Regions from separate parts of the Homo sapiens genome. Here all the other regions are reported to be linked to region 4. Evidence: microRNA targets listed by miRTarBase, many of them from high-throughput screens and not tested one by one. Region 4 holds a microRNA gene; each other region holds the end of a gene's coding sequence.
Evidence for each region. Region 4 holds the annotated microRNA hsa-miR-4665-3p (CUCGGCCGCGGCGCGUAGCCCCCGCC, at 5,246-5,271, opposite strand). A microRNA usually pairs through its seed, bases 2 to 8, with sites in the 3' UTR of a target mRNA and lowers its output. Matches are read on the target gene's strand: a 7mer-m8 pairs with bases 2 to 8, a 7mer-A1 pairs with bases 2 to 7 and ends in A, and an 8mer does both.

Region 1 (7,888 bases), not on the chromosome of region 4:
TGGGACATCTGGACTTTCCACTGCTGTAGGACTGTATCCTTTGGGGTATCTTTAGGCTGTTTTCTCAACTGTAAACATCTATGACCATGGTTGTGACTGGCAAGGAACATGCCTTGTTAGTCTCAAGATGGAGCTGAACTGAAAATGGCATTACTCTAGCTCTCCAAGGCTGCTGCTTCCCCCACACCTTGAAGATGGACTACATGGGAGTGGCATACACATGATTAGTCTCTTCTAGGGCAGATCCCAGGCTTACTCCTTTGCATGAGCTGAATCGTGTCCCTCCAAAATTCATATGTTGAAGTCCTAACCCCCAGTACCTCAGAATGTAACTCTATTGAGAGACAGGATCTTTAGAGAAATCGTCAAGTTAAAATGAGATCATTAGTGTGGCCCCTAATCTAATATGACCGGTGTCCTTGTAAAAGGGGGGAAATTTGGACAGAGACATGCATAGAGGGAAGACAATATGAAGAGACAGAAAATGTCATAGAGATGTCGGGCACAGTGGCTCGTGCCTGTAATCCTAGCATATTGGGAGGCTGAGGTGGGGGGATCGCTTGAACCCAGGAGTTCAAGACCAGCCTGAGCAACACAGCAAGACCCCATCTCTATTTAAAAATTAAAAAAAGGAACCAAAAAGCATAAATAAAAAGAAAATAGAAAATGTCCATCTACAAGCCACGGATAAAGGTCTGGAACAGATCCCTCCCCACAGTTCTCAGAAGGAATCAACCCTCCCAACACCTGGATTTTGTCTCCAGAACCGTGAGACAATACATTTCTGTAGTTTCAGCCACCCAATTTGTGGAACTTTGCTATGGCAGCCCTAAAAACACGAATACACCACATAACACGGGCAGTCATACTTGAGAGGCTGTTCTCATAGCACCTGCCCCACTTCCTGGGGCCAAGGGGCCGGATCCTGGGTCTGGGAAATGATTTCTAGTCCAATCGAGTGTTTGTTAGGAACTGAGTCTCCTCTGGCTTCAGCGTTTTCTTTGATGTGAAAGCTTCAGGGACTTATAATTAGAATCCCTCATTTGTTCACATGGATTAGATGTTGTCTCTTTGAGAAGGTAGTAATTACTCACAGGATTTTTAAATGAATCCCTATATATTTTAAATGTTGCTGTATTTAGTGTGGCTTGTGAATGTCAATAAGAAATAACATTTACAAGAAAGAACAGCAGATTCCTTGTTTTGAGTTTCCACCGGAGCAAAGCTGAAGAAAATGCCAAAATAATATGCAAATATTAATATGCCATATGTAAGGCTTCTTGGATTTTTTTTTCGGAGCTGTCAACACAATTCAGCCTCTCCGTTGTTATTCCTGGATGTTGATGATTTTTAATAGAATCCACTCTGAATTTCATTATATTGGGTATGTTCCCAGTGGACTCTAACTCCTCAACATTATTTCTTTGTTTGTTTGCAGGAAATTTTGATTGGGTAGGGAATGATTTCACTCAGAATGCTGGCACGGGCCTTGTTATCAACCAGGCAGATGTGAGGAACAACAGAAGCATCATTAAGCAACTTAAAGATGTGTTTGAAAGGGACTGGTATTCACCGTATGCCAAAACCTTACAGCCAACCAAACAGCCGAACTGCTCAAGCCTGTTCAAACTCAAACCCCTCTCCAACAAAACTGCCACAGACGACACAGGCGGAAAGGATCCCCGGAACGTATAACATGATGAAGAAACTGACAGGACAGCTCTGTATTTCATATTTATACATAAAGGACTTGAGGAGAGAAAAAACACTTTAATATGTCTCTTTTTTTAGGGAAAAAGCACACTTATAAAAAATATTCTCTGAACAACACATAATACCTATCTAACAATATCTTAGCGTCGTGTACACTAAAATTAAGACTTTTGTATTTGTTACCTCTGACAGAGAATGTCATTCTGGCGTAGAAGTTAGTTTTTACGTTTGCATACAAATTTTAAGACTTTCATTCCTGCTCCTTTCTAGTTTTAGAACTTTTTCTGCTGACCTACCCGGTCAGTTGTTAGGAAGCTTAGCATGAGGTGGGCTCTTTAACACCATTCTGAGAACTGTTGATTTAGAGAGGAAGGTGAGGATTTTGCCTTGGAGAAGAGACTGATAAAACCAAGTGTTTATTCTTGTAAATCGTCTCCAAGACCTACACAGTCAGCTAAGCATGAATAGCTTACATCTCATGCCAGCCTTCAACACCCTTGAAAAATATCCTTTTCTGTCTTGCTCATTTTCTTCTTATACCATAAGTTTTATTTGGTATCATTTTCTCTTCTCACAAAATGTTCCTATTATATAGCATTTTCTGTATTCACCTCAACATTACTTCTAACTATGATAACATCTTTTGAAAACATACAAATTTTTCAGAATGGATACTAAGTGGAAATAGCAGTCTTTCATTTTCACCTTTCAACTGAATCCTTTTTTCCCCTACCGAATTGGTATTTAAAAAAAATCACAGTCAGCAATATGTATCCTTTCTCTCAAGCTCAGAAAAATTATGTAGCCACCTGCTAATATCCAGCAAGCTATCAAGTCTGCATTTTGGGAATAAAGTAGTTTTTCACATTTTTGTTCAGTTTATGGTATTATAAAGGAAAAAATCTCTATGCGTCAGTGGATTTTAATTTCTTTAGAATCATTATGCTGTTAAGAGTATGCCAGCAAACGTTTCTAGAGCTATTTAATATACCTTCTGCTATTTAATATACCAAATGCTTTTCAGAGAAATGCAATTTAAATACTGTGCTTAACATATTTTACTAAGAAGCAGAAATATTGAATTATTGTTCTATAACGTAATTGTGTGTTGTTGTTTTATATCTATACAATATATACCCCTGTATTAATGGAGACCATTGCTACACTAGGGAGAGGCATGGCCTCTTCAGAGCCCACAGCAGGTGGCCGGGATGTCCAGTTCCAATGTTGTTCCCGACTCTGTGACTCAAAGCGGAGCCCCTCACTGCTTGGCCTCGGGCTTCTCTTGGTAATGTAGACGGTAATAACTCACCTACCTCGCAAGGATGTTGTCACGGTAGGAAATATTTATAACTTGTTTTGAAATCAAAAGAACCTATATAAATGCTAAGCATTATAATATATAATCTTTTTCTTGAAATAAACTTTGTCATATCTTGATGGAATCAACACCAGGTCCTCCCCCAGAATCCACAAAGGAAAACAAATTCACAGCTTCCTGTTGCAAATGTGGATGAAAAGAGCACAGCCCCACAGAAACCCTGGTGGAGATCTGGATTGTCAACATTTCAATAGAACATTGCGTTGGGCTGCTTTGGCATGAATAACATCAACACAAAACTAGACGTCGTGCTAGAGCTGGTTCTTCAGGACCATAATATACATGTATTTTCAGAGCAAGGAAACACTCAGTTATTCTTTTTCATTTCTGGAGACTTGATTTCTAAATGCCAAAAGAGTGATCGAGGAGCCTGTGAATCTTATCCAATGGATTTACTTAATATAGAATGGCTATGTTGGTTATCCAGTGAGTGATCACATTACTTCCCTTCTTGTTATTTGCAAGTATTGCTTCACTAGATATTTAACCAGTTGATCAAGAGAGCTGGAAGGAAGCTGTATTTTTAAGGGTAGCATGGTTTTATGACTAATTGGGAGATTCTCACTGAAATTCTTCATCAATAATAGCCAGTCCCTAAGACTCTAAATATTTACCATATACACAATCCATATTTGAGTTGGGAGTTATAACTCTGCCAGTTATCCCAATAAAGTAAACGTGGCTTTGGTGATGATTTTAAAAAGAAAGCAGCCTGGGTGCGGTGGCTCACGCCTGTCATCCCAGCGCTTTGGAAGGCCAAGGCAGGAGGATTGCTTGAGGCCAAGAGTTTGAGACCAGCCTGGGTAGCATAGCAAGATCCTGCCTCTAAAAATAAATAAATACAGAAAGGAAAGAAGGAATCAGAATAGGAGTGGAGACAAACCTACCAAGTTCACACTCAGACAAACAAAAGCGACCTGAGTTGGTTTTAAAAAGGACATCTAAAGGGAGAAAAAAAAACCAAATAAACTAAAATTTGTTAGTTCTCAAGTTGTCCCCTGAAGTATTCATCCACAGCCATGGGACACTCATAGGCTTGGTGTCATGGGGCCCCTTCACTGTCACTATCTGCTGTATGTGCTACGAGAAGAGAATGTCATCCATTACGGAATGACCATCATTGCCATTTCCTTTTGAGGCCTGGCAAAATGCTATCACCAGGAGCCGCATCCCAGGCTTTTCTGCCAAGCAGCAGCAGCAGATGCCTACCAGACACAGCAAGCCCCTAATCAGGGGAGTCTGGGCAGCGGTGGTGACTCCATGGGGCCACACTGTCCTTCTGTGGCAGCCAGAAAAGTGACCCCCATACCAAGAGTGTCAGAAATGGGTTCATGTCTCCCAAGAGAACATTTCATTCTGCAGAACTTTCTTTCATTTGGATGCTTTAGCTATCCCTCTAGAGACGGCTTTCCTTTCTTTTAGACTTGTTTCTGTGCTAAACAAACTATCAACCTCCATTCCCCCCCACCCCTAAATATCCCAGGAATTACTTTCCAGGAGGGAAAGAATGCAAAACAAAAACAGGTTAATTTGACACCCTCTGGTGGATGTCCATGCCAGAAATTATGAGGAGCAGGGTGACTACTCCCCATTAACATTCCTGGATTTATTTCCCAAGAGGCAAAAAGGAAAACAAACACAATTAGAGACTATATCTTGGATTTCAGTACCACTAACACTAACTTAGTGCCTTATGTATCCTCAAGTGTTGATTTTAAACAATGACTTATTCTATGAGAACACTTCTCTCTCCTGTGGAATTCAAATGACCTTCCGATGGGCCTACCAGTTGAAAACTTCCATTTGAGCAGTGACAGTTTTTATGCTGCCTGTTCTCTTCCCAAGCCCCATCACCTTTATCCACCCCCCCGCCAAATCAAATCATTGCACACACCATCAAAGATCAATACTGTGGGCCTCCACTGCATTGTCACTGGCCACTAGCCTATCAAATAATTGAATCTCTGCTTGTCCAACCATTGGAGAGGAAGTGGAAGAGTGAGATGACATCCATGCTTTGTAAACAACAAGCTTTAGGTACCTGAACCTGATAGAAACAAGGAATGCTGAAAATGTCCCCACTGACTTAAAAGAATGCTGTAAAGAGATGCTTTGCAGACTTCCTAGGTCCTGTGGCACAGAGAATGAAAACCAGCGTCTTTAACAAGTCAAAGCAGACAAAGAAACAAAAGGTCTGCGGATACACTTTGCACCTGTGTAACTCTGGGCACCATTCGGGCCCTCTCTGTGCTACTGTTTGTCTCATGTCTGAATGGTTCTTGGTGAGAGGGGTCTGATCACATTTTTGGTTGATCTCACCCTTTGAAAAATGTGGGGGATTTTTTTTGAAATGCAGTTAATGGTTTAAGTGCCTCGATGAACCTGGGATGGATAGAAGCTCATTTCCCACCAGCCTGTGGCTATACTCAGTGACTCTGATTCATTCTGTTTGTTTTTAGGAACTTTTATTGAACTAAATTCCAAGGGGGGAGAAAAGACCATAAGAATTTCTTGATAAGATCAGATCCAGGGTCTATCTGTCTCAGGAATTCTATCCTACAATTAACTTTTTTTTTTTTCCACACGTATGACCACTGGTGTGTGTTTCTGTGTCCAAAATTCATTTCATTATTTTTAACTTTAGGAATGTAAAACGCTGCCATTACTTGCATAGAACAGCCACTTCCTATAATGAAAGATACTTTGTTATTGTTTATTCAAACTCAGTCCTTACGAACAGCCCCATATATTGTGGACAAATGTTTCATTCTTTTATCTTTCTGTACTTGTTCCCAATGAACTGGTGTGCTTTATTATACACCTTTTAAAGGCAAAATTAATATAACTTCCATTTGGCCCAAGGTAAAAAATTTTCCAATTTGATTTGGATTAGCATCTTTCATTTTCCTTTTATATGTTGTTAACAAAATAGCTGCTTACCATTTTCACCTTATTGACTTAAATGGACGGAGGCTTTTGAATAGCCCTGACATCAACCCCAGTTCGCAGCCTGTCTTTCTCATTTGAGAGAATTCCCATCTTTGGCTGAATTATGAAGATGCTGCTTTATACAGTGACTCAATGGGTATTCCTCAGAAGTTTCTTGAAGATGTAAAAATGAAATTTTCTTATTTTTGACCCATTAGCAGTCTTGTATTTACAAGGTTCTAAAACTTCACTGGTCATTAACGCTTCTTTTGGCAATTTGAAAAAAAAAAGTTACATTTAATAGACTATTACACATTTTCTTTTGCTATGTTCAACTACTAAACTTCTAATTCTGTTACAAAAGGTATCTTGAATTTTTAATGTTCCTTTATGTAAATAGGATAAACTTGTACCTGGACATATCTATATTATTAACCTTAAGATCCCTAAATAAATGGGTTTGATAAAGGGTTGAATTTGGGGGAATCATTAAAATTATCAAACCTTTCGTATAACCAGATGCTCAGTTTTTTCAGAAGTAAATATTAGATGGCTTTTTCATACTGTGAGATGAGGCATTTCTTTTTCTCCTCAAGCTGATCTCAGAAACAAATCAGTCTCTCATCAGTAACCAAGCTGTACTGTGGTAAATTATGAAGAAGGTAGATGCGACTGGTCCAATGGGCCCACTGTTTTGTATATTCACACAAGGAGGCATCTTTGAAACACTATACCTATCTCTTTCTCTAAAAAAAAAAAAAAAAAAAAAAAAAAAACCTTTCCAATAAATGTTCATTCTGAGTACATTAATTTTTAGTGAGAAAAAGAAACAATCATAGAGACCCCACTAGAGAACCTAGTGTCTGCTCAGCAAACCCATATTGAGCTGTAGAGCATACTTTAACAGCCATCTCAACCAGCTCACCCAACGTGTAAATTCCCTTCCCATTTGGGCATAGAAGTTGACAGCCTAGAGTGTCAGGACGGCCGAGTGGTCTGAGGCTCCAGACTCAAGGTGAGAAGCTGAAAACCTACTTGAGCCAAACAATTTGGAGTGCTTTATATGGTTCCTTTCTCAAGACCCACACAGGATAAAATTTTGTTGATTTACTAAAGTAATTTGGATTTGAGGCAGTCTTATCTCTGAAAGGATATGCACAGCATGTAATAAGGTGGGTGCTGTTTTCATAAAGAGAATCAATCTGAGAGGCATACTTTTAAAAAAAAAACTATCATTGGAGAGGTTAGCAAAGGCTTAAAAGTGAACTTTGAGTCTGCAATAGTCAATAGTATTCTGATTTTATTGGCAGTTTCTGAATGCTACAATTTCGTGTTTTTTTTTAAAAAAATGGGCTAACAGTGCGATGACAGTCATGTACAAGGAGTCCAATTAAATCATAGTAAGGGTGAAGATTATTTGTGATTTATTTTTATATGAGAGATAAATTAGTAAGGAGAAAAGATCTCTTTTTATGAAGTGGATATCTGGCTCTCAAACCCATTCCTTTTGGCTCAGACATTAAAAAATTATTAATTCCCTTATGGACTCTCCTATTCCCCATGGGCGGAAAATTCTGAAAAGCAGATGAGACATTCTGAGCCCCTTGCAAGACAAACACAGATGGTTTCTAATTTAGAGTTTTCCCACACAAATGCACAACCAATCTTGGAAATATGACCTCAATTCCCAGGATTAAAAACGTTGAAATTATATGTTACTTTCCAATATAAATAGAGGATGAAGATCTTTAAAGACAACTCAGAAAATATGATCCAATAACATTCAAATCAGAGCGTAATCTACAATTTCACTTAATAGTTAAAAGTGAAGATTAGCTGCTTCTTTAAAAGGGGTGAGTTATTAAA
Region 2 (7,888 bases), not on the chromosome of region 4:
GTCTTCCAGGGCTCATTGCACCAATACATAAATTCATCTTTAATTACTTTGGTAAACAGCACAATCCAAAATAACTCAGGATTCTGGTTACAAAAGCAACATCTAGTTCAGGTGGGGTTTTTTGGGAGGGGTTGCGGGTGGGGGACTCACAGACCTTTCTAAATGTGTACTAAGTTATTTTATTTCCAAAGAACATATTGTGTGTTTCATTGTTAACACTTGTCTGCAATTTAATACCCAAGTATATTCACAGATATCGTGGGGACCTTCACACCCAGTTGGATCTATGCTTTTACAATCCTAATGCAGCAAATAGAAACTTACTAATCTTAGGTTCTGCACCTAATGGTGATCCGAGCGTCACAGGGGCTCTGGGTTTGCTGGCTGAAAAATGCAATTTAAAAAAATGCCTGAAGTCTGTGCACATAAACACGACTGCTGCTTCACCAGACTGAAAGGAACACAAACAGAATGCCTCAACCTACTTACAGTGGTTCTGAACATAAACTGACTGAATTTTTTTTTGAGACGGAGTCTCTGTCTGTCGCCCAGGCCAGAGCGCAGTGGCACGATCTCGGCTCACTGCAACCTCTGCTTCCCGGGTTCAAGGGATTGTTCTGCCTCAGCCTCCCTGGTAGCTGGGACTACAGGTGTGCACCACCACGCCTAGCTAATTTTTTTTTTTTCATATTTTTAGTAGAGAAAGGGTTTCACCATATTGGCCAAGCTGTTCTCGAACTCCTGACCTCATGATCCGCCTGCCTCAGCCTCCGAAAGTGCTGGGATTACAGGCGTGAGCCACCACACCCGGCCATTTTTTAAAAATAATGTAAAACGTATGGGAAGAAAAAGTTTCTGGGAAATAGTGAGCTCTTTCACCTACTAAGGGTTTAAAAAGATGCTGCCTCACCTGCACCAGAACAACCTCCTGATGACAAGGGTTCTTTACCCAAAGCTGTCAAGGGAGGAGCTGAAACTGCACATCCTCAGACCACAGCAAGGCAATCCCTTTAAGGGCTGTTAGTTTCCCAGGAACATAAAATTCTCATCTGCCAGAGTGGACGCTTCCTCAACCTGACCCAAGAGTAGCTACTTGTAGAAAAACCATCTGCAGGATGTGTTCATGAAATTTTCAACTTAAAGATGAAATGTTTCAAGCTTAGTTCATGAAATCTGTCTGCCCCACTCCTAATTCATCCAGATTTTCAGACTGAATTTCCTATTTCCAGCTATGTTAGTATGCTGTCGACTCTGTGGGAAATGACCTCAGGTAACAAGTTTCAAAGAACAGGACTTGACCAGTGACAACGATGGGAATGGGAGGAGTAACTACAATCGGAGAAATTATACCAGCCCAATTTCCTTAAATGTCTTATAAGTCACTTGAAAATGGCTTTGCCTTACCAGAAAAGTTTGCATATGTATATGCGTGGTTTGTATAAATGTGGAGTTTCTGGTTGAACTTGCTCTGAACTCATGACTTACTTAAATAGCCTTTTACTACTCCATTGATCTCACCTATTTGATTCCTCTAGTACCAACTCAGTAGGAAAATCTCACCAGCAAATCTTAAAAGGAAGCCCTTGATCTTTGCCATCTCAAACATCTTCATTTAGCTGACATGTGCCTCTGTTCTTTCCAAAAGTTTCCTGTTCACAGTTAACCAAAGTCAAAGAACTAAACTTCACAAAAAGCAAATGCAATGTCTACCAAAAAGATTCAAAAGAGTTGAAATCTGAATGCGCCTGAAGTTACGGTATTTAGCACTCTGACAATCAGACCTTGAAGGATTTAAGGATCAGTGACCGCTGCGTTCTGATGTCACCTCCCTGATCAGCTAAAGGGAGTCCAAAGAGGAACACAACAGTTCACAAGGTGGAAGGTGTCTATTTTGTGGTCTGGAAGCAAAAAACAGTGTGTCCCAGGTTTCCAAGCACCTGCCCACTTACACTCAAGACAGCCAGGACCACTCTGTAGGAGGGGAGGCCGGGACACTGCAATGAGCCCGGATTGTCAGCTGTTCCCAGCCCCTTGCCTTAGTGACTTCAGGCAGCACATCCCTGATTCCAGGAGTCCATCGGGTCCTGGCATCTTGGGGACTGGCTGGACAAACGCTGGACTGCAAATAATCCGTGTTGCCAGTTGAGTTTCCACAAGTCACAGCATATTCTTTTAATCTACAAACCTGGGTCCTATTGTGTGAACCAAAAATGCAAGTTTGATTCAGTTCCATGATGCCATTAATAAAAAAAAAGAAATCACATTTCCTCTCTAGGGCTGTTCCTTACACTCCTGATAAAGAACACATGGCACCAATCACTCTGCCCCACAAGGCTCCAAGCCACAGTGCTCCAAAGAAACACAGAACTGAGTAGGGGAATGAAAGATCTTAGCCTACTAAAATAGAAACCGTTGTGCTAGAAAGCTGAAATATGGAAACCTGTGAAATGACGTATGAAGAATCCGACACTAATGCTCCTAAAATGAACTGAGCAGGAAGGCTGTGGGCGGCCTCCTTGTGGACAGGCTCAAGAGCCACAGCATTCCAGGGAAGCCCTCACCCCTCGGTCAAGGCAGAAGAAAGGACACTGCATGAGGGGACGGTCAGAATGGAAAGCCCACCGCACACCTGAGAGGAGAAAATCCCCTGCCCCTACAGCTGAGGTTTGTGGATAACAGCAACTACCCCCATTCCCAGTTGCTCCTGAAAGGCTGCCTGAGCCGTGGCTCTTGCTGCCCTGGACAGAGACTTCCAGTGTCTCCAGAGCTCAGTGGGTTTCCAGAGTCCACCGTACACTTCCTGGAGCAGGATCCTACCCTCCCTAGTTAAGTCTTGGAACTGGCTGACCACCTTGCTTCATAAACCGGAAGCTTCCCGGGGAGAATATTGTTTCATACAAACTGCCACATTCCCAGCCCATGTTTCTGAAGCTCTAGATAGGGACACATTTCATCCAACATTCCCTCACCCAGTGATCCATGGACACACTTGCCAATAAGGAAGAAACTAGACTCCCTCTCTGGTGGAGGACAGGGTCATTAACTCAGCTGAGAACTTAGTTTTTATCACTAGTGCTAGGTAACGTGTTAAAGTTATTGCATTTTTAAGGAGAATGACCTTCACTTACTCAAGTTGAAGCAAATATTGCTGCAAAAAAGCACTGACTGCATTGCAGGGATTTTGTTTGTGGTGTGTGTGTGGTGTGTGTGTGTGTGTGTGTGTGTGTCTTCCTTTCAGGAAATACACTCTTAAATACTTCCTCACTCTGGTCGTATTGCCCTTTCCTTTGAAATAACTTTTCAAAAACAAAGAAAACCTATTTTTATTACCTTTACATTTCACTGCATAATGTTTGCTATTAGTCTACAATGAGAAGTTGGCACTTTTATAAAACAAAATGGACATTCAAAAGATTGCCAGTGCTAATGCTTTGGAAAGGCTACACACATTGGTGAAATACTGGGCTGTTTAAAATATTTTACCAAATTATGAACATTTGACGCACTAGTCTCTGAGACTGGGAGGAGAGCAAAACTAGGTTTCCTTTCCTAGCAGCCATACTGGATGCTCATTATATTATGAAATAGTTTCTTTTAAAATGAATCATTTGAACTTTAAAATATAGTTTTGAAAATCAGTAATGGTGTTATGACAGAATAGAAAGTCTTCTGTACATACCACTAAAAATCTATTTCTCTTGTTTGAGTCCAGATTTAATGGGTTACCATTTTAAAGGATACTAGACACAAAGATCTCTGTTTGAATCATTATATTGGGCTCCTCATTTAATTTTAAGTAATTCAAAACAATTCAAAATGTTGCTTTATTGCCCCACAAACAAGCATTTTCAAACAATGTTATAGCATATGTATACTGTCAATATCTTAAAAATTAATGTATTTATAAATATATCGGAAAAATATGGTTATGCAATAATGTACTTTTAAGAAATGGTATATCAGACCAAGATTACCTGATGATGCATCAGAAGGCTTCATAGCTTTTATATTTAGTAACAGAAAAATTGTTTCATTTTATCATTTATTTTTCGTCAAAGTTTTTATAAGCATATATGAATTAAGTATTCATTAGTTCATTGATATGACCATTGACCATTTTTAAAAGTCTAAATTGTAATATGTTAACTCCTGATGGCTTGCTGTCAATAAATTATTTTTTTCCTATGATCAGTTTACTTTGGGAAACACTGCCATAGTCAAAGGGATATCTCCAACCCAAAGTTCAAACTAAATACTTCCATTGTGTAAGATGCCACATTTTGAAGCACAGAGAAATATCTGGCAGCTTTGTAGTTTGAAGCCAATTCAAACGGGTGCTATGTTTCAGTTGCACTGATGTGTTACTATTTTTTTAGGTGAAAGAAGGCAACAGGTAGATTCCCCTGCCTGACACAATGATAACCGCACTTTTCACATTTTCGTGTTTATTCTAAACAAGATTACTGAGAGTCATATAAAGCTTTACCTTTACCCAAAGGGGGTTTATTTCAAGTGGCAAAAGCTCACTAAAGTCTAAATGCTTTATTAACTATAATTGTCAGCATATTGTGTTTAAAAAACACTACTTCCCTAGAGCAGGGGTTGGCCAGCCTTTTGTAAAAGGGCCAGATAGTAAATATTTTACACTTTGCCATCTGGTCTCTGCTGTGTCTACTCCACTCTGCTGCGGTAGCATGGAAGCAGCACAGAGAAGACAGAAATGAGTGTGCACGGCTGTGTTCCAGTAAAACCTGATTTGTGAACACTGAAATATATATTTTATATAATTCTCACGTGCCACCAAATAGTACTTTCTTTTGAATTTTTTTCAACAATTTAAAAATGTAAGGCCAGGTGAGGTGGCTCACGCCTATAATCCTAGCACTTTGGGAGGCCAAGGCGGGTGGATCACCTGAGGTCAGGAGTTCAAGACTAGCCTGGCCAACATGGTGAAACCCTGTCTCTACCAAAAATACAAAAATTAGCCAGGTGTGGTGGCAGATGCCTGTACTCCCAACTACTCTGGAGGCTGAGGCAGGAGAATCGCTTGAACCTGGGAGGCGGAGGTTGCAATGAGCCAAGATCGCACATTGCACTCCAGCCTGGGCGACAAGAGTGAAACTCCGTCTCGAAAAATAATAATAAGAAAATTAAATTAAAAATAAAAATGTAAAAACTATTCTTAGGTCACAGGCCCTACAAGAATAAGCTGTGTGCCAAATTTGGCCCATGGGCCAAATGTACGTATGCCCAGCCCTGTTCTATCAAGCAACAGTGAAACTGTCCCTCCTTAGAGACTACCATCCCTAAAACGACTGACTGTACTCGCCATGTGCTGGAAAATGGGAAGACTTAAAAAAAGGGAAATCACTGAGGCAGAGTCAAGGGGCGACAGACCTTACTCGGGATGCCCTCCTGCCCACCCATGCACAGAGGGCCACATCATCCTGGCATCCACAGCCAGCACAGCGACCAAGGCCGTCCATACCCCACCCAACGGGCCTGCAGAGGTGGCCATCTGCGTCTGCGCAGCACTGACTCGCTGGGCATGCCTCCTCTTCCATCAAGTCACCACTCCCCACTGTGGCTCTGAGAGGAACAGAAAGCCACTTTCCCATCCCCCATCCCCTGCGCTGGCAGTCCAGCGACTAAAAGGGCCCAGCTTCTCTGACTGCTAATGGCCCGGCAAGTCTCCTAACAGTGTGCTCTGCCTACACAAAGGGCGCCGGGGCGTGCGTGCCCGGCTCTCGCAGATCACAGCCAGGGCCTGCCCGAGGACTGGCATTTCAATTCACCAAACGTCTTAATTCGGAGGGGGACGGAACACTTTCTACAGAACATTTTAAAGCACATGGGAAGTTTGGGCCCTTTCGCAGTAGAGAGGAAGGAACGAAGGGGAGGAATTTGTAGGCTGTTGTTTAAGGATTGTTAAAGTGCGCACATCATCAGCTGACAAAGATCGGCCGACTGCCAATGCCTCCCCAAACTCACGAAAGCCAAAATTCAGAGTACAGCGTAAAAGGGGGTGCGAGTGGCCTTTACTTTTATAAAGGACATTTGTACACAATGTCGCACAATAAACAACGTCAAGTCTGGGCACACATTACCCACATCTCAGTCAAAAGAAAAGGGTGGCCTGGCCCAGCCCCGAAGGGTTTTCTCTGAGAAATAGGTTGGGGTGTAAAGGTCCCACGCGTGCACCCACAGTCCGTGGCACCTTCCTCTGGTGCACCGTGGCAGGACGCTTTGTTCTTTCCCTAGGGGTCTCCAGCAAACTGCAAGGGCTACAATATGATATTTAGAGTTAAAAACCAATCCCAAGGCCTTAGAACCATGCCCGGGAGTTGGGAGCCTTTTTCTTGGAGGCAGCTGCTCCGGGCCTTGGAAGTTTCTTCCTATTCTGACGCAGGCTGGGAATTCTAGAGGCCTTGTAGGAAGGTCAAACGGACGAGAAGACTGAGGTCAGAGGCTTTCGGAGCATTGCCCGGGCTCTCTAAGCTCGCTCACTTGTCTGCGGGGGTGCGAGTCGACGGTTCAAAGTCTCCCTCCTTTCCCTCCACGCGCCCCTCACGCCAGACTCGCCACGCTCAGCAAAGCGTCCCAGCAAGTTCCTTGAGGCGGCAGCCCGAGCTCCACGTGCTAATCAACCCCGCCCCACGGCTCTTCGAAACTCTCCAGGCTCAGAGCGCGTCCGCAGGGCGCGCGTAGCGCAGCGTGTAGTTGGCGCCCGCGTTGTTGTCCCAGTACTCGCCCTGCGCGCAGCGGTAGCAGACAGCGAAGTGGACCGCGACGCCGCGCTCGTCGGCGTCCTCTTCGTCCTCAGGCTGCAGGCCCGGGGGCAGGCACAGCGAGAAGTGGAAGCACTCGGCGCCTGGCTCTTTCTTGGCATCCCCGGACCCTGGCTCGGAGGCCCCAGACGGTGCCTCTGGCTGCTGTGGCTCCAGCGGCTCGGGCTGCAGCTCAGCCGGCACGTCCAGGAAGGAGCGCCACTCGGTAAAGGTGTAGCGCACGGTCACGGCCCTGGGCCCAGGGCAGCTGAGCACCCGGCCGGAGCCCTTCACCTCAGCGCCCGAGGCCGTCGAGCACTGCACGCGCTCCAGGCACACGCGCTGCCGCTGCAGACGCTCGGCCGCGGCGCTCGGCCCCGGGAGCTGGAAGAGCGGCCGGAGCCGGGAAGGCGGCGCTGAAAGGGGCGCGGCCACTGCCGCCGCGGCCAGCAGCCCCCCGAGCTGCTCCAGGTCCTCGGCACGCATAGGGAAGCTTCGGAGGCGCGAGAGCACGGCGGGCGGCACCTGCGGCTCCTCCGCCTCGCTGAAGTGCTTCACGCTGGCCAGGCTTAGCCCCAGCGTGTCCGCGAACTGCACCCGCTTCTTGCACTTGGCGCAGCAGCCGCCCGGGCCGAGCTGTGCGTCCTCCGCCCCCTCGCCGCCCAGTGCCACCGCCTGTTGCTGCTGCTGCTGCAGGAACTTGGCCGCCTGCAAGATGGGGTCGGCGGGCAAGGAAAAGGAGCGCGCGCGGCAGCGGCGGCGGCATTCCAGCAGCTCCTCCTGCTCCTGGGGGGCGGCCTCTTCCTTCGGGGACAGGGGCCTATCCCCTAGCTGAGCGTCAGGACTCGGGGTCTCCGAAGCGCCACCGCCGTCGCCGCCACCCTGCACACAGGGGACCACCGGGGCGGGCAGCTCCTCGGCCGGCGGGGCCTCTCGGAAGGGCGCTGGTCCCGGCGCCTCCAAACTTAGCCGCGCCCCTATGGGCTCCATGACGCCGTTCGCCCCTGGACTTGCTCGGGCCGAACCGGGCCCCTCTGGAGACTTAACTAACTCCTCGGGCCGTGGAAGGAGCGCAGGGCTGCAGTTCAGGCTCGCCCTCCCCGAGGCGAGTCGCCCCAGGC
Region 3 (7,888 bases), not on the chromosome of region 4:
CGGGAGCTGCTTGGGCAGTGGTCAGTGGGCATGGGGCTTACACCCTCTTGGCCTCAGCTGTCTCATTAGTTGAGTGAGAATAAGACCATTTGCTTCACAGCATTGTTGGGAGGATTCAAGGTGTGAAAGTTAACTACAAAGAGATTTATGAAACCAAAGATATTGTTACTTTTAACCACTGTGACTTGAAGTCAGGAGTTAGTTAGGTATTGATTACATTTCTCTTTATAGCCAAACAACATGGGGGTAGGTGGAGTGCAGATATTCAATAACTGCTTTGTGGCCTTTTTTTTTTTTTTTTTTTTTTTGAGACAGGGTCTTGCCTGTTGCCCAGGCTGGAGTTCAGTGGTACAATCATGGCTCACTGGAGCCTTGAACTCGCAGGCTCGAATGATCCTCCTGCCTCACCCTCCCCAGTAGGTGGGCTACAAGCATGTGCTACTGTGCCTGGTTAATTTTTAATTTTTATAGAAGCAGGGTCCTGCTCTGCTGCCCAGGCTCGTCTTAAACTCTTGGCTTCAAATCATCCTCCTGCCTCAGCCTTCCAAAGCATTGGGATTACAGGCATGAGCCACTGCACCCAGCCTTGGACTTACTTTTAAGTAGGAAGGAACTTCATTGGTATTTGGGCCAACCTTTTACCTGATAGAGAAATAAGGGTACTCAACTAACAAACATTCCCTGACCGTCTACTATGTCACAGCAGCAGTATTGGCTCTGCTATATATGCTTCCTCTCAACCCTACAGCTGTCCTATTTTGCAGACAAGGAAACTGAGCTTTAGAGAGAATAACTACTTTAAGGTCATACAGTCACCATCTAGTAGAATCCAAACCCTCGTCTGTCTGTTCTAAAGATAATACTTTTATCCTTTACTCCATTACCTCCCAGCGGCTTTCCCCATTCGTGAATTGGTTAGAAAATAGAGGGTCTCACATAGAGGTGTCCTGGATTGCTCCTGTCACTGCAAAGCCCCTTGTTTTACGGGTTCTAAGGTAGCCCATCCAGCTCAGCTTGGAGACTGTCTCAAGCTGTTCTGGAGGGAGGGGGTGAGGAACCCATGAGGACAGAGCTATTTTGGGGGAATCCCACAGGCCTTTATCTCAGGGTCAACTGAAAACCAGCCATGTCCAAGGTGGGCGGATCATGAGGTCAGGAGATCAAGACCATCCTGGCTAACATGTGAAACCCCATCTCTACTAAAAATACAAAAAATTAGCTGGGCCAGGTGGTGGGCACCTGTAGTCCCAGCTACTTGGGAGGCTGAGGCAGGAGAATGGCATCAACCTGGGAGGTGGAGTTTGCAGTGAGCTAAGATCGTACCACTGCACTCCAGCCTGGGCAACAGAGCGAGACTCTGTCTCAAAAAAAAAAAAGAAAAAAGAAAAGAAATGAAAACCAGCCGTGTCTCCTGTATTAGTCCATTTTCATGCTGCTGATAAATTTTCATACCTGAGACTGGGCAATTTACAAAAGAAAGAGGTTTATTGGACTTACAATTCCACGTGCCTGGGGAGGCCTCACAATCATGGCGAAGGTGAAAGGCACGTCTCACATGGTGGCTGACAAGAGAAGAGAGCTTGTGCAGGGAAGCTCCCCTTTTCAAAACCATCAGATCTCGTGAGACATATTCACTATCACAAGAACAGCATGGGAAAGACGTTCCCCCATGATTCCATGAGACCTCCCACCGAGTCCCCTCCCATGACACGTGGGAATTCAAGATGAGATTTGGGTGGGGACACAGCCAAACCATATTACCTCTGGAGCCCCTAGAAACCCAAGGTCAGTCATTTAGGGCAACTGCTCTGAGCTGGAGAAAGGAGGATCTGAAGGCCCTTACTTGATGCTCAGTCACTGCAGCACCAGCCAACTTAGTCATTTTTGTTCTCCCATTTGCCAGCAAGGCAATTCCTTCATACATTATCTCTAGGGGGTAGCTTGCATCCTCAGTGATTATATACTTAGTGGTTATAATTTTATCAGCCACAGATGAAATTCTCAACCTGTAATCATTTTTATGTTTGATAAAAGTAGGGAAAATTGTATAATGAGGAGTAAGATGTTCTTCTGGTCCCCAAGCAGTCAGTCTGCTTTACATGCAATAAATGGTGTAAAATGCACTTGTGCGCACTGAAATTTGAGAAGTACTTTGGTGCCTATAAACCACAGGGGACCTGTTAAAATGTAGATTCTGATCATTTGGTCTGGGGAGCAGGAGTCTGAATCTGTAGAAGCTTCCAGGTGCTGTGGGCCCTGGGTGCACACCCTGAAGAGCAGAGAGGTTGGCCTTGGTGCTCCTCTATAACGAGAGTCTGAAGACCTTGTTCAATTCCATTAATAATTATCTGCTACTAAGGATATGCAAGATAGATTTAAATTGTTGAGGGAGAGGATCTTGTAAAGAGATAGTATCTCAAGGTCAGAGGCAGGCAATAACTTGAAAGAATCTCAAATAAATATCATGAATCTCTTAAGTTACAAACTTTCGTTTGATTTTTGTTTTTAGAATTTTCATCCAGGCACTAAACAAGTTATCTAAGGGGGAAATAGTGAGAGAAAGACACAGTAATTTCACAACTTCCTGGCAGAAACCCTCACTGGAGGTGGCTGAGCAGTGTTTTTCAAAATACTTAGAGAAGGGATCCAGTTTCGCATCCAGAGAGCCACACAGCAGAAGTGTTGTTTCTAGGGTTTTGCTTGTGTGTGTCCCAGATTCCAAGAGTCTCTTTAAGCCACATGATGCCATTGATTTTATGACACTACTCTCTTCCCAAGCAGCAATACCTATTATGACCAAATTTAATGATTTCTATTATATTAGCAACATTTTAGTTTTTCTAAAGTATAAATCACATATCTAAATCTGCCAATTCATCTATCATCTGATCGAGATGTTAAGATCATTCTCTCTCTGCCCCTAAATACCACAGAAGGAAAAAATGTTAGCACAAACACATCCAACGCAGACCTGTAAAAAGCACATGGCAAGATTCGGTACTACTCACAGGGACTCCTTGGTGACACTTCTTGGTCGTGTGGGAATCTTGAGCTTTGTGTACCAGGTCACAGCATTCGATGCAGTGGGACATGTCTTCAGGCTGACAAAGGCCCTGAAGTCTCTATTTCTACCAGCAAATGCTTTCCATCATTCTTTCCTTGATGTGATTGATTCAAGGGAAAAAAAAAAGACCTACAATGATATCAATAAGCACCAGGCACTAGTGTTTATGTGCGCCACTGGTGACAGTATAAATGAGCTTCTCTTTTTGTTTCAATCCACAAGTATTTATTGGTTCTGACATTCCAGACAACGTACTGCTCAAGGCACTGTGAGGAGAGACAGAGAAACAGATGGTCCCTGCCCTCATGAAGCTTACAATTTAAAGACAAAGACATTCTCTCATTGCAGCATAACCAGCAATTCCAAGTGGTATGTGGAAACTGTGTAGATGTGGTTGTGTCTGTTACAGGATTCAGATGGGGGCTGGATGAGGAGGATCTGAATGGGCCAAGAGAGAGGAAAGAGCTGTTCCATGTAAAAGCACAGCACAGAATGTCACAAGATCAGGAACACTCACAGCCTGAGCAGTGAGACTAGTTACCAGCCTCTGTGATGGATAAATGGGGCTGAGGTCCAAAGGCTGGTTGAAGCCCACTGTTGAGGCTAATGACTTTGACCTTTATCCTTTGGCAGCAGAGAGCCAATGAAAGGTATTTGAGATGCTGAGTGGCATCATGAAAGTGAATTTTGGAAGACTAAGCTGGAGTTATGTAGAATTGAGTGAGGAGGTATTGTTAAGTATTGAACAGAGCAAATAATTGAGATACTGTGACTCTCTAAGCTGAGAGTCTGTGATTCTAAAATAAAATACTAGCAGCCATGAAAAAAAAAGAGAAGAAACTTAGGGAATGACTGCAATGATTCATGGGAAGGGAAAGGAAGAAGTTATATATATATTTTTTGACTAATTGAATGCTATTCTTTACTGAATACTGAATCTCTCAAGAAAAACTAAGACTGGGAACAAGGAGGCCAGGTCTGCCAGCTACCCCATTCTCGCCCTGCCTTGCAGTGCAATTTCCAGGGTAGGGGGAGGTGGTCTTTCTCATCCCTTTAGCTTGCTTACTCCCCAGGCAGCAGAACATGTGCCAAATAGATAGACAGGATCTAGTTCTACTCAAACTAGTTATTTACTGCAGCAGGCAATTTAAAAGGATGGAGGAGGTCTGAACAATTATGTACAACTTTGGAATCACAGGCAATACATTCAGAGTCATTAAGAGGAAGCAATTTTAACTACTGCCTCCTCTTCAGAACCAAGTAAAGATTCTGCATTAAAAGGTCGCTTAAGTTGACTGACCACACCAAACTGTGGGAACCAGGGGCTTAACAGACAATCAGGGAGCTACTAATAAATAAACCAAATTAAAAAATTAGCTCTAAGTGCTTATTCCCTACTAGAGATAATTAGTCTAATACACTTGCTCACTTGCTTTTGTCTTTCTCAATCCAATTCCAGTTTGTTGGCATAACTTTAGGGATTCCTTATTGTAGAGGAAAATAAAATAAAATGGACATTCCAAACATAAGCACTTGTTACAGGCAAGTCCATTAACTAAAATAATTATAATAATTTCCAGAACATCTTTATTGTTGTGCTAAAGTAATTGGTTTACATTTATAACTAAAATGACCTTTCTCACATCACTAAGATGTTCCACTCCATCAACAGCCATGCGTATCACAATTTTACCACCCAAAATCTAATCCCGTGTCTTTGTATCTGACAAGTCAAACAGAGCAAGGAAGTACTACTAGTGGACTCAAGTGATATAAAAAAATAAAAAATAAAATACTTCCATATACAGTGACTGGACTCTTAATACAATGGAAAAAATACTTTGGTGAAACACTGACATTTAGTGAGCCCCTATCGTGAGCCTTTGGGGTTGGAAAGGGGAGACGGGGAGTGAGTGGAAAGATAACTAAGACTCAGGCCTCATTACAGAGTCATTCACAATCCATGTTCCCACGTAGAAGGCACACCTTTGTGTAGCTGTGCACAGTTAATAATAGGGGCAAGATGTGTTATAGCAGAATTACCAAATGCTATAAAAGTGGCATGAAACAAAGAAGTTACTTCTAATTGGGGTAACGGGAGTCAAACTTACAGAATTTGGGAGAGAGCAGTAACATTTAGCTTGAATATTTTAATTTAAACACATTTAAAGCTTCTAGACTCACAGGTACAATTTATATTATAAAGAAGATGTAGTTTTATATCAGTTATAAATTAACCAAAGGAGCTCAGATATTACTGGGCCAGCCAGGAGGCCAAAGAGCTCCCAAGGCTCCAGTGGTTTTCTTAGCTCATTTCCATGCAGGTGTCAAGGCCTCTTCCAGGTAAATTCAGATTGGATTTGGACACAAAACTCCATGGTCAATGTGCTCCAAATTTGCTGAATGTATCAACGGAAAAATTGATAAGACAATACCACCAAAATGTTAACCCTGGGTACCTCTAAGGGTAGGGCTACAGGTGACTTTAAAATTGTGTATGTATTTATTTGTATTTCTGTTTATATTGTGAATTTTCTCAATGGACACATAGTATTTATTTTTAAGTCTGTTTTCTTGACTATATGTTATTAAATATGTTTTCCTGATTGTAAAAGTAACACACACACATAAACACATCTTCCAAGACAGTAATATAAAATTATAAAAATGAAGAAAGCAAAATCCCATGTACTCCACTCCCAAAGATAACCCCTGCTAAGATTTGGGTATATTTCTTTCCAGATGTTTGCCTTATGCATCTGGAAGGCATATCTATTATGTGCATAATCAGAAAACTATATAAGTTGTAGATCAAAAAAGGAAGATCTTTTCCTGCTTCTCTCTTTTAAAATATCTCTGTTGACAGTAAGACATCAGTGATCTTCTGACTTTGTCCTTTTATTCATGGAACACAAGCACCAGGAAATGCCTTAAACGACTCAGACAGACAATCTGTGGATTGTAACGTGGCGGGGCCCAAGGGCGTGTTTTGGACATTTGGCTAGGACAAGTGGCTGGTACAATGGCCAATTAAGAGGCACTTTTATGAGGAAAAACATACTTTCTGCAAGATAGATCTCTAGTGACCGATCCACCAAATGCCTTCGCTCTACTCTGTATGTGGCATCTGCTGCTACTTTGCTGATGCGTTAAATGATGTCCTATCTCCTGGACACACAAGCTGCCACTGGGAAGGGGCTGGGAACCTACATTGCTGGTGTCACTGATACTAATGGTGTGTGTAGGAGTCTTCCCCACCTTAGGTCTTTCTTACACTTCTTCAATAAGACTTTCTATAAAGGCAGAGCAATACCAGAGCAGAGCGAAAGCCCTGCAAACACCAGCCAGACGCAGGGGCCCGAGGAGCTGAGGAGCTGAGGCGCCGGGGTTGGGGAGAGTAGGACAACATTCGGCCAAGGCAGCCACATCCTGTTCCTGGACAGCCACAGTGGCAATGCGCCAGGAGGACGCGGGGATGGCTCCACACCCGCTGCCAAGTCAAACACGGGGCACTCCAGGCAGAATGAGGGACTAATCTTCCCGACTGGTGTAAGTAAAACCTCCTGGTGAAGGTCACAGTCTTCAAAAGCAGACCGAGGCAGAGGCATCGCTGAGTCAGCAGTGAGAGATGGGAGCGTGGAAACTGGTCTCTTCATGGAGGAAGTGACCTGTTTATGAGCAAGAACAAGGCCAGGAGAAGGCCCACTCCCCGCAAGCTGTGAGTTGACTCATAGGGGCCATGGGACTGTCCCAGGTGATGTGAGCGATCTGGAGCAATACCGGTGTACTCTGCTTTTGTTTAAAATGAATTAAAATGAATTAGGGGCTTGGGGAATGAGCCAAATGGGCAATAATTACACGAATAGGCCATGTCTTCCCAAGATGCCACCTCACTGGCTATCGAATCTGTGAAGCCGCTGTCTCCTCATTTCTTCTGGTGAGAGATGAAACCCGTAGGGTGGTGGGCTATTTCTGGTATTTCCTGTAGTGAGAAAGCCAAAGGAAAAATCAATCATTCTGACGTGACAAGGCATGTGTACCCTAGGATTCCAAGGGAACAAAGTGATAGCTTGGGTGTCATCTTCATTTTAACACAAAACAGAAATATAACAAAGATTTTTCAACTTCAGCTGTCAGTACTAAATTTCAACGTCAAGTAAATATTTTTAGAGTGGTTCAGCCATGAATCTGATTTGACTCATTTTGAGGCTTCTTGATAATCTTCCCACTTGTATTTTTCCTTCCATCGTGCTCCATAATTTGCATCATTTAGGCTTACACAGTATCTCAAGGGCTTATTGTCTTTTTTTTTTTATGCCCATATATAACTTGTTGCCACCTTTACTAACTTCCCCACCAACTAGGCTGGTTTGGCTTCTTCTGATCAGCCTTTGGGTGCTCCTTTTCTTCCCTCTAATGTGCCGCCTCCTGCCCCAATGTGGCCAATAAGAATCATGCGTGATTGAAACACACAAGCAACCACTGGAGCAGAGTTACCATACTGATCAATATCTGGGCAGGTAAACAAAGATGTAGGCATCATATTTCAAGATCATATGAAGGACTGTGGAAATCGTTACTGAAAAGAGTTTCTTAGGGATGCAAACTTACCAAAAACACAGTTTGTAATGATACAAGAATTTCAATCACTACATAAGAAAGCATTCTCCCAGGCATCATGAGTAGTAATAAAGGGAGAAAAATACATAGTCCTTGATCTCAAGGAACCAGCAACCTAAAGGTAATGAAAGAGCTTCAATATTCCCCATGAGGAAACCAGGAAGACACATCACTGATAGATACGGGTAAGTAGAGGTTTACTTC
Region 4 (7,888 bases):
AGACAGGAAGAAAACTATGATCAACAGGTTGAGATGTCTCTGCAAGATGAGGATGAATGTGATGTTTATATTCTGACCAAAGTATCAGATATTTTGCACTCATTATTTAGTACTTATAAGGAAAAGATTTTACCATGGTTTGAACAACTACTTCCATTAATTGTAAATCTAATTTGTTCAAGTAGGCCATGGCCAGACAGACAGTGGGGATTGTGCATATTTGATGACATCATAGAGCACTGCAGTCCAACTTCATTTAAATATGTAGAATATTTTCGGTGGCCAATGCTACTAAATATGCGAGATAACAACCCTGAAGTCAGGCAAGCTGCTGCTTATGGCCTGGGTGTCATGGCACAGTTTGGTGGAGATGATTATCGTTCTTTATGTTCAGAAGCTGTTCCACTTCTGGTAAAAGTTATTAAGTGTGCAAATTCCAAAACCAAAAAAAATGTCATTGCTACAGAGAACTGTATCTCAGCAATAGGGAAGATTTTGAAGTTTAAGCCTAACTGTGTAAATGTAGATGAAGTTCTTCCACACTGGTTATCATGGCTTCCACTGCATGAAGATAAAGAGGAAGCTATTCAGACTTTGAGTTTTCTCTGTGACCTAATTGAAAGTAACCACCCAGTTGTAATTGGTCCAAATAATTCCAATCTTCCCAAAATAATCAGTATAATTGCAGAAGGAAAAATTAATGAGACTATTAACTATGAGGATCCTTGTGCCAAACGCCTAGCTAATGTCGTGCGTCAGGTACAGACTTCTGAAGATTTATGGTTGGAATGTGTATCACAACTTGATGATGAACAGCAGGAAGCCTTACAGGAGTTGCTAAATTTTGCTTGAAGCACTTTAATATAACTTGAATATTATCTATTATAAAAGTAACTACAAATAAGTGTTGTGAATAGATTTTATTATAAATCAGAGAACTGTTTTCTCCCTGCTAAGCAGTTTATAGTTCTTCTCCATGTTTCTCCAGAATTAATCAGTGTTAGTCCTCTGTTTATCTCGCATGTTTTATCTTCCAAACACAGACCTTGGTGATAACCTGTGCTTCAAACTGTCTTAAACAATGTTTGTCACCTTTCCCCTAGTTGATGTAAAGTATATAAATTGTTGCTATTTGTTTGAACTATTATTGATGCTAGCCAAGCAGTATACTTGATGTGAAGATGTCATGCTATCACAATATGCTAAGAGCTCACAAAAATAAGATAGAATTTCCAGGACAAACATCTTTGGAATTGTGAGTGAAGGATATAGTGGCAGGCTTGTCCCTCTTTAATTAATACTCTTGGTATTTGTGGTGATGGGAGGATGCTGTTACTAGGAGAGTTTTGAGATACTGCAGTGGATGTGGGATGTATATGAACTTCTTCATAATGTACTCCTGGGAACTGGGTAGGACATATCCATATTGTAGTTCCCAAGGTGTCTGGTTGAGAGTTAGAGAACTTTTAAATTTCTTTAGCCAGACAGGTCTCTATTTTTTTAAGTTATCCAGGACTCCAAGAACCATAGTTACTGAAAAGGGAGTCCTGATACATCTAATATTGGTAGCATGTAACAGTGTTTGACAAAGAGTAAGTAAGCAGTATTCTTGGGAGTCAGTGTTATGTGTTTCAGCAGAGTATTATTTTGTATATGTATGCCATTTTCTCCCTGCAAAGCAGCTCAACAAGAGAAAAAGCTCTAGTTATAGGGCTTAAATTGATTTCTATTTCAAATAATTTCCTAAGAGATTCTAGAGTAGAACTGAAGAGTATTCTATTGGAAAAGTGAAAGGAAAGAAATGTAATTTTCTTTGAACATGAAAAAGAAAACAACTTTGAGAGTAGTCATTTAGCAGTAGATGTGCATTATTATGAGAAAACAGTTCTATAAGTCCAGGGTTAATTATATTAATTGGAATGTCAGTCTTTAATGTCGAGCTTATTGTAGGGTAGAAAAGAGCTTTCTACTCAGCTAACGATTACTCATTGATCCAAAACTTAAATACATCTATAATTTCCTGGGGCTATTGTGAGTACTGTGTATGTATTTAGCAAATATTTAAGACCTAGTAAGTGCTCAATAAATTGTAGCTGTTATTGCTGTTGTTGTTTGTACCTCTATTGTGTCTGGAACTTCTTTTACTTTAGAATTTTCCCAATCCATTCCCTACTCATTCATATTGGCAGGCTATTTAGGCTATTGTTGACAAGAATATAAAGTTGAGATTTTAGATATGCAATTCTGTCCATTCCATGTAATTATTACTAATGGGGGAAAAAGGAAAATTAAGGACATTATGTATAGTATGATCACAATTTTTAGTATATTTAAGATAAATAAAGTATAGAAGAATGAATAGAAAAATCCCACCTCAAAGTATTAATAGAGGTTTTCTCTAGGTGGTAGGATTAAGTGGCAAATTTTCTCCTCACTTACCTATATTTTCTAATTTACCTACATACCTACAACCAACATATTTCTTGTTTTGTTTGTTTGTTTTGAGATGTAGTTTTGCTCTTGTTGCCCAAGCTGGAGTGCAATGGCACGATCTCGGCTCACTGCAACCTCCGCCTCCCAGGTTCAAGCAATTCTGCCTCAGCTTCCCGAGTAGCTGGGATTACAGGTGCGCACCACCACTCCCAGCTAATTTTTTGTATTCTTAGTAGAAACGGGGTTTCACCATGTTAGCCAGGCTGGTCTAGAACTCCTGACCTCAGGTGATCTGTCCACCTCAGCCTCCCAAAGTGCAGGGATTACAGGTGTCAGCCACCGTGCCCAGCCCATATTTCTTGTGTAATAGAGTTTCTTTTTTAAGATCAAGGACCCGATCCTACTTTCATTATAGTTAAGTTGCTATCATCTTGACCTCTTCATAACCTAGAGTTGAGGTTCCTTCTACTCACCCACACCTTTCTCTTTTATATAATCTTAATTAAGAAACCCTTTATCAACATTTCTAGCAATTCCCTACACTTTTATGTATGAGGAATTAGAAATTCTGCCAGATGACTTGGAATTAGGCACCTGGAGTTTTTGAAGTATGACAGACCTAGATTTTAACTTTGTTTAACAACTTTCTTAAACTAAGAGGCAGTTTCCTCATCTGAAAAATAAGGTTAATACCTAGCTGATAGGCTTGTTGTGAGATTAAAGGAGACAATGAATATAAAGTGCTTAGTGGCACAGGGTTCAATAATGTAAGCTAATATTGTCCAAGAGTCATGAAATAGAGCTGATGACTAAAGAGGAGTAGAGGATGTTTGCTTGGGTACGTTGGGCTTCAGATTCCTGGGCTTTGTCGAAAGAAAGGAGGAATGTCTAGTCAGACACACGTTTTGGTTGCCAGGTGCTGAAGTAAGACTGATCCCTGCATTTTTCTTTCTGTGAGCTGAGGTTCTGTGGACTCTTCAGAGTCCACAGACTCTTCTCTGAGGGGAGAGAACCCTGTAAATGCGTTATATATTACAAATGTCTGATGAGAGGAGACCTCGAATACTAGATAAAAGGTATGTGTGGAGGACAGTGTGAATACCCTAACAGAGCGTTCCCGCTTCACTATTTTACTTAAGAGTGATACTTAACTTACTGGACAAAAACAGCTTTGAGGTTAAAAAAAAATTTTATCACTGCTTTAAAGTTCACATTAATGAGAAGTAAACAATTGCAAGAGTCAGAGTATCCTAATCATTTAGTTATACACATTTTACTTTTAAAATGCATGATTTCTGTAATTTTGTTTTTGTGTTTAGGTAATTCTAGGTTTTAACGAGGGTTCTGTGTACCTAGAAAAAATAATATGTGCGTCTTTCAAATAGAACATGAGGAAATAGTAGTATTTGCTTTATGGAACCATGAATTCCTACCTCCCAACTAATTTTAAGTAACATGTAAACCAATGTGAATGATGAGTCCACTTTTTAGTCATTAAACAGTAATTGTAAAATGTAGTGAGATTATCAGCCCATGCAAACAACTGTTTAATGCTGTACAACTCAGACATGAACTATTTTGACTGTTTTCAGTCCCAAGAATTTGTTTAAATGAGGTTCCATTCTCTTTATTCTTAACAGATCTCAAGAATCGGGAGGGTGGAAATTTGTAACTGAAAACATGGAATTAGTTCCAAAATATGAATTGATGTTAAGAGCTGGGGTTCTAAAAATCACTTCCTTTTCTTCTGCATGTGAACGTATGGTCGAGTCCTTAAACTTTCTTTCTAAACTTCTCAAAATTCTGGTTATATATAGAAGACCCGCAGTCACAAGGGAGAAAGGGTGGGAACAGAATGTAAATTTTATAGTAGAGAAGATTTACATTTTGCGCTTTCTCACTATTCATTTGCCATTAACAAAGGTTATCTAGCAACTTTAATTTTAGTTTGGGGGGCTAACACGGGTCTTGCAAAAGAAGTTTCCTCTTGAAGCACTTGCTTTAAAAAAAGCCTTTTGGCCACCTTCCCAGGCGGTAGCGAATTAAGCTGCGCAGGCGCCTTGCTTCCCCCTCCATCAACATGTTCGATTGGCCTACGATTGATTACATCATTGGTCCGCGCAACCCTAGCAGGCTTCTGGGCCTGTAGCTGAGCCGAAGCTCTTCCTTTTGCGTAGCGGGGCGGGGCACGATGGTGGCGGGGGGGGAGGGGGGAATTGTTCTACTACGCATGCGCACCGGGGATGGCGACAGGGCCTCTTTCTTTGCTTCTCTCCACAGCTCTTCCCAGCCGGGGGGCTGAGTGCCCTCCCCCTTCTCTCCCTGCCCCTCCCCTTTCTCCCCCCTCACCGCCCAGCGGGGCTTCTAACTGACAGTTGTCGCCGGGCCCCGTCCGTGCACCGCCTCCTTCTGCCCGTGTCCCCCGCAGGTAGAGGGGGGCGGGAGGGGGTGTGAGGGAGAGGAGGAGCCGGAGCCGCCGCTGCGGCCCCCTCCGGGGAGGGGAGAGGAGAACCCCCTTCCTCCTCGCCCCCTCCCAGCCCCCCGCTGGCCCGGGAGGGGGTGGGGCGCCGAGGCCGCGGCGACCCGGCAGGGCCTGGCCGGTGAAGAGCAGGCGGGCGGGGTGCGGAGGGGTGAGGCCGGCGAGGGCCGTGCGCGCGCCGCCGCCGGGGGGGAGGGGAGAGGAGGGCACCTAGGCTCTCCTCTTCTCTCCCCCCTCCTCGCGCGCCATGTAACCCCGCCCCGCCGGCGGTGAGCTCAAGACCCCCGCGCGCACCGAGCCGAGCCGGCGGCTGAGGAGAGCCAGGCCCGATGTGGCGGGGGCTACGCGCCGCGGCCGAGCCGTGAGGAAGCGGCTCGCGCTCACGCGTCCCCCAGCACCTCGAGCGGCTGTTCCACACCGCCCAGCCTAGGCCTGCCGGGGCATGAGTGTGCCCGGGACGCCGGGAGCGATGGAGCCGGCTGGGGAGGAAGAGCGGCCGCCACCGGCGGCCGAAGGAGAGGACGACGAGGAGGAGGTGGCAGCGGCGGCCCAGACCTCAGGGCCGGCCCACGGAAGGAGTGCCTCCTCGCTGGAGGACGCGGACGATCAGGAGGAAGAGATGGAGGCGATGGTGATCGGAGGCGGTTGCTGCAAGGAGCAGGAGCTGACCTACGAGCTACAGCAGGGCTACCGCATCCTGGGCGAGTTCCTGCAGGAGAAGCACCGGGGCCTCACCGCCCCCTTTCTGCAGCCCTTGGGGGGCGTTGCCACCGCGGAGGAGGAGGTGGCGGAAGGGCCGCGCAGCGGGGGCCGGGGCGGTCGCGCCTTCCCGCAGCAGCCCGGACAGGGCATGTGTCTGCTGCAGATGGAAGAGAAGTTCGCCAGCGGCCAGTACGGGGGCATCACCGAGTTCGTGGCGGACTTCAGGTTGATGCTGGAGACGTGCTACCGCCTGCACGGAGTGGACCACTGGATCTCCAAACAGGGCCAGAAGCTGGAGATGATGCTGGAGCAGAAGTTAGCGCTTCTCTCTCGGTAAGCGAGCCCGGTCCCCGGTGGGACTGACAGACTGACACAAACACACACTCACACGTGCCCGAGGATGGGCTGGGCCAGGGGCCTGGGGGCGGCGCTGATAGGTGCTGAGTCGGTGCTGGAGAAGCCCGGGAGGAGGAGCGGCGCTGGGCGGGGACCGGAGGGGTGTGGTGGGTGTGGGCCGAACCCGGCTTGCGCGTAGACTGAGAAGGAAACCCGAGTCTGCAGCGCTGAAGAGCTGGGTATAGTTTGCAGATGTAAAATGGAATGGGTCCCGTAGGAAGAATTGCACGTGTAGGCAGAGGAACAGTTTTTGTGGGATGGAAGTTGGACCTGCAACTTTTAGACAGTTTTAGCATGACATTTAAAACAGCGTTTAGGATGAAATATCTCTAGAAAAATAATTTTGGCTTATGTAAAAAGGTGTCTTAAACCATTAAAAAATAATTTTATCATTTACTACCCATGTCGGTCATCGAAGATTTATGGAGTGTTACTAAATGGTTAATGGTTACTTTTGCATACTACTGATCTTTTCTCTCCGTTTCATCTGAGGACACCCAATTTTTGCAATAATAGGGAATGCATCAACACACATTTTTTAAAGTTTATACATTTATGTTTATTCTACCAGAAATCATAGGCAAGTCAGATGATACTGTGCTCTTGGTATCCGCCACCCATATATCCAATTATTTAACACAAGAGGAGGATACTAAAATGAATGTATTGTTTTATAATAATTGTATAGTCTGTGTCAGCCAAGTTAATTTCTAAAGTTTAAATTTTTCGGGAGTGGAAAAATTCAATGTTTTTGGTATTGGTAGTTGAAGTGGAATAGTAGTTTGACTGTTTACTATTAGAGTGAATTTAAGTTGAGCAAGTCACTTAACCTTTTTGGCCTCAGTTTCCTCATCTATCAAGCGGGGATAATAATAGTACTTCTCTCATAGAGTTGCTTTGAGGATTTAATGAGTTAATAAATGTGAAATCAACAGTGCTGCTCCCATAGTTAGCCAAGTATAAGTGTTAGCCATTTTAATGTAAGTAGTAGCAGTCGTTGAATAATATGAGTGTATACTTCATATCTGAAACGGCATTATACTTGTGCTCTTACAGAATAGCTCCTAGAAATTGTGTTAATTTTTTGGTTCTTGATTTGTCACTGTAATTTAAAAGTAACCTTTGTCATTGGCTTCCCATATGCCATTTTCAAGACTAACGGTGATTTTTTTCACCAAAAACAGTTAACATAGTGCCTGTCTTCGTTAAGTGAGCTCTCTTTAAGGAACCTCTTCTTGAATCCTTTCATAGAGTAGGATTATTTAGTAATAGAATAATTATTCACATATTTGCTTTGTAAATTACTTTTAATACTTTAGTAATTTTGTATTTCTGTAGTGTGTTTGTTACCCTTGTCTCCACAGTGCATTATTGCTGTGACTCACATAAAAAACAATCCATTCACGTTATTATTTTGAAGTTATGAAGTATCCTCCTGATTGATGTCACAAGATTTTAGACCTGGAAGAACCTTAGAGTTCATCTAATCTATCAGATGTGGGAATAATGATTTAGAATGAGGCAAGAGAATGACTGAATGAAAGTGCTAAGAGATAGCATATGGGTTTGAATTACTGGTGTTTTCAAAAGCTCTGTGTGTAATAAACATTTATTTATTTATTTTATTTTCTCTGAGTCTCCCTCTGTAGCCCAGGCTGGAGTCCAGTGGCGTGATCTCAGCTCACTGCAACCTCCGCCTCCCGGGTTCAAGCGATACTCGTGCCTCAGCGTCCCGAGTAGCTGGGGTTAGTTGTCACCGCGCCCGGCTAATCTTCGTATTTTTGGTAGAGATGGGGTTTCGCCATGTTGGCCAGGCTGGTCTCAAGCTCCTGACCTCAGGTGATCCGCCCGCCTCGGCCTCCCAAAGTGCTGGGATTA

Region 1: the mRNA of PLD5 is a reported target of hsa-miR-4665-3p. Seed matches in the 3' UTR shown: 7mer-m8 at 7,007-7,013.
Region 2: miRTarBase lists PPP1R3G as a target of hsa-miR-4665-3p. Seed matches in the 3' UTR shown: 7mer-m8 at 5,960-5,966.
Region 3: the mRNA of RHBDD1 is a reported target of hsa-miR-4665-3p. Seed matches in the 3' UTR shown: 7mer-A1 at 6,473-6,479.

Annotation. Positions count from the first base shown.
Region 1 is chr1:242,083,661-242,091,548 of GRCh38, reverse strand. It overlaps PLD5 (phospholipase D family member 5), which reads left to right. Exons shown (of 10, transcript NM_001372062.1): 10 at 1,439-7,888. The coding sequence ends at 1,695. Among named protein-coding and RNA genes, the nearest start is that of MAP1LC3C, 89 kb to the right of the region's middle.
Region 2 is chr6:5,085,355-5,093,242 of GRCh38, reverse strand. PPP1R3G (protein phosphatase 1 regulatory subunit 3G) reads right to left here. Exons shown (of 1, transcript NM_001145115.3): 1 at 3,756-7,888. The coding sequence starts at 7,757. The coding sequence ends at 6,681. All of the region lies in intron 3 of LYRM4-AS1 (LYRM4 antisense RNA 1), which reads right to left. It also overlaps a transcript of LYRM4 not described here. Among named protein-coding and RNA genes, the nearest start is that of PPP1R3G, 4.0 kb to the right of the region's middle. RefSeq lists silencers at 7,151-7,380, 7,411-7,460, 7,601-7,700 and an enhancer at 6,931-7,620.
Region 3 is chr2:226,994,589-227,002,476 of GRCh38, reverse strand. RHBDD1 (rhomboid domain containing 1) reads right to left here. Exons shown (of 9, transcript NM_001167608.3): 9 at 3,267-7,046. The coding sequence ends at 6,955. It also overlaps a transcript of COL4A4 not described here. Among named protein-coding and RNA genes, the nearest start is that of RHBDD1, 160 kb to the right of the region's middle. RefSeq lists enhancers at 6,519-7,020, 6,200-7,399.
Region 4 is chr9:6,005,254-6,013,141 of GRCh38, reverse strand. It overlaps MIR4665 (microRNA 4665), which reads right to left and starts at 5,316; the gene lies at 5,238-5,316. It overlaps BRD10 (bromodomain containing 10), which reads left to right and starts at 4,660. Exons shown (of 8, transcript NM_001017969.3): 1 at 4,660-5,947. The coding sequence starts at 5,355. RANBP6 (RAN binding protein 6) reads left to right here. Exons shown (of 1, transcript NM_012416.4): 1 at 1-2,117. The coding sequence ends at 852. RefSeq lists silencers at 4,593-5,112, 5,163-5,392, 5,583-5,742, 6,133-6,192 and enhancers at 4,630-5,129, 5,130-5,631, 5,763-5,992.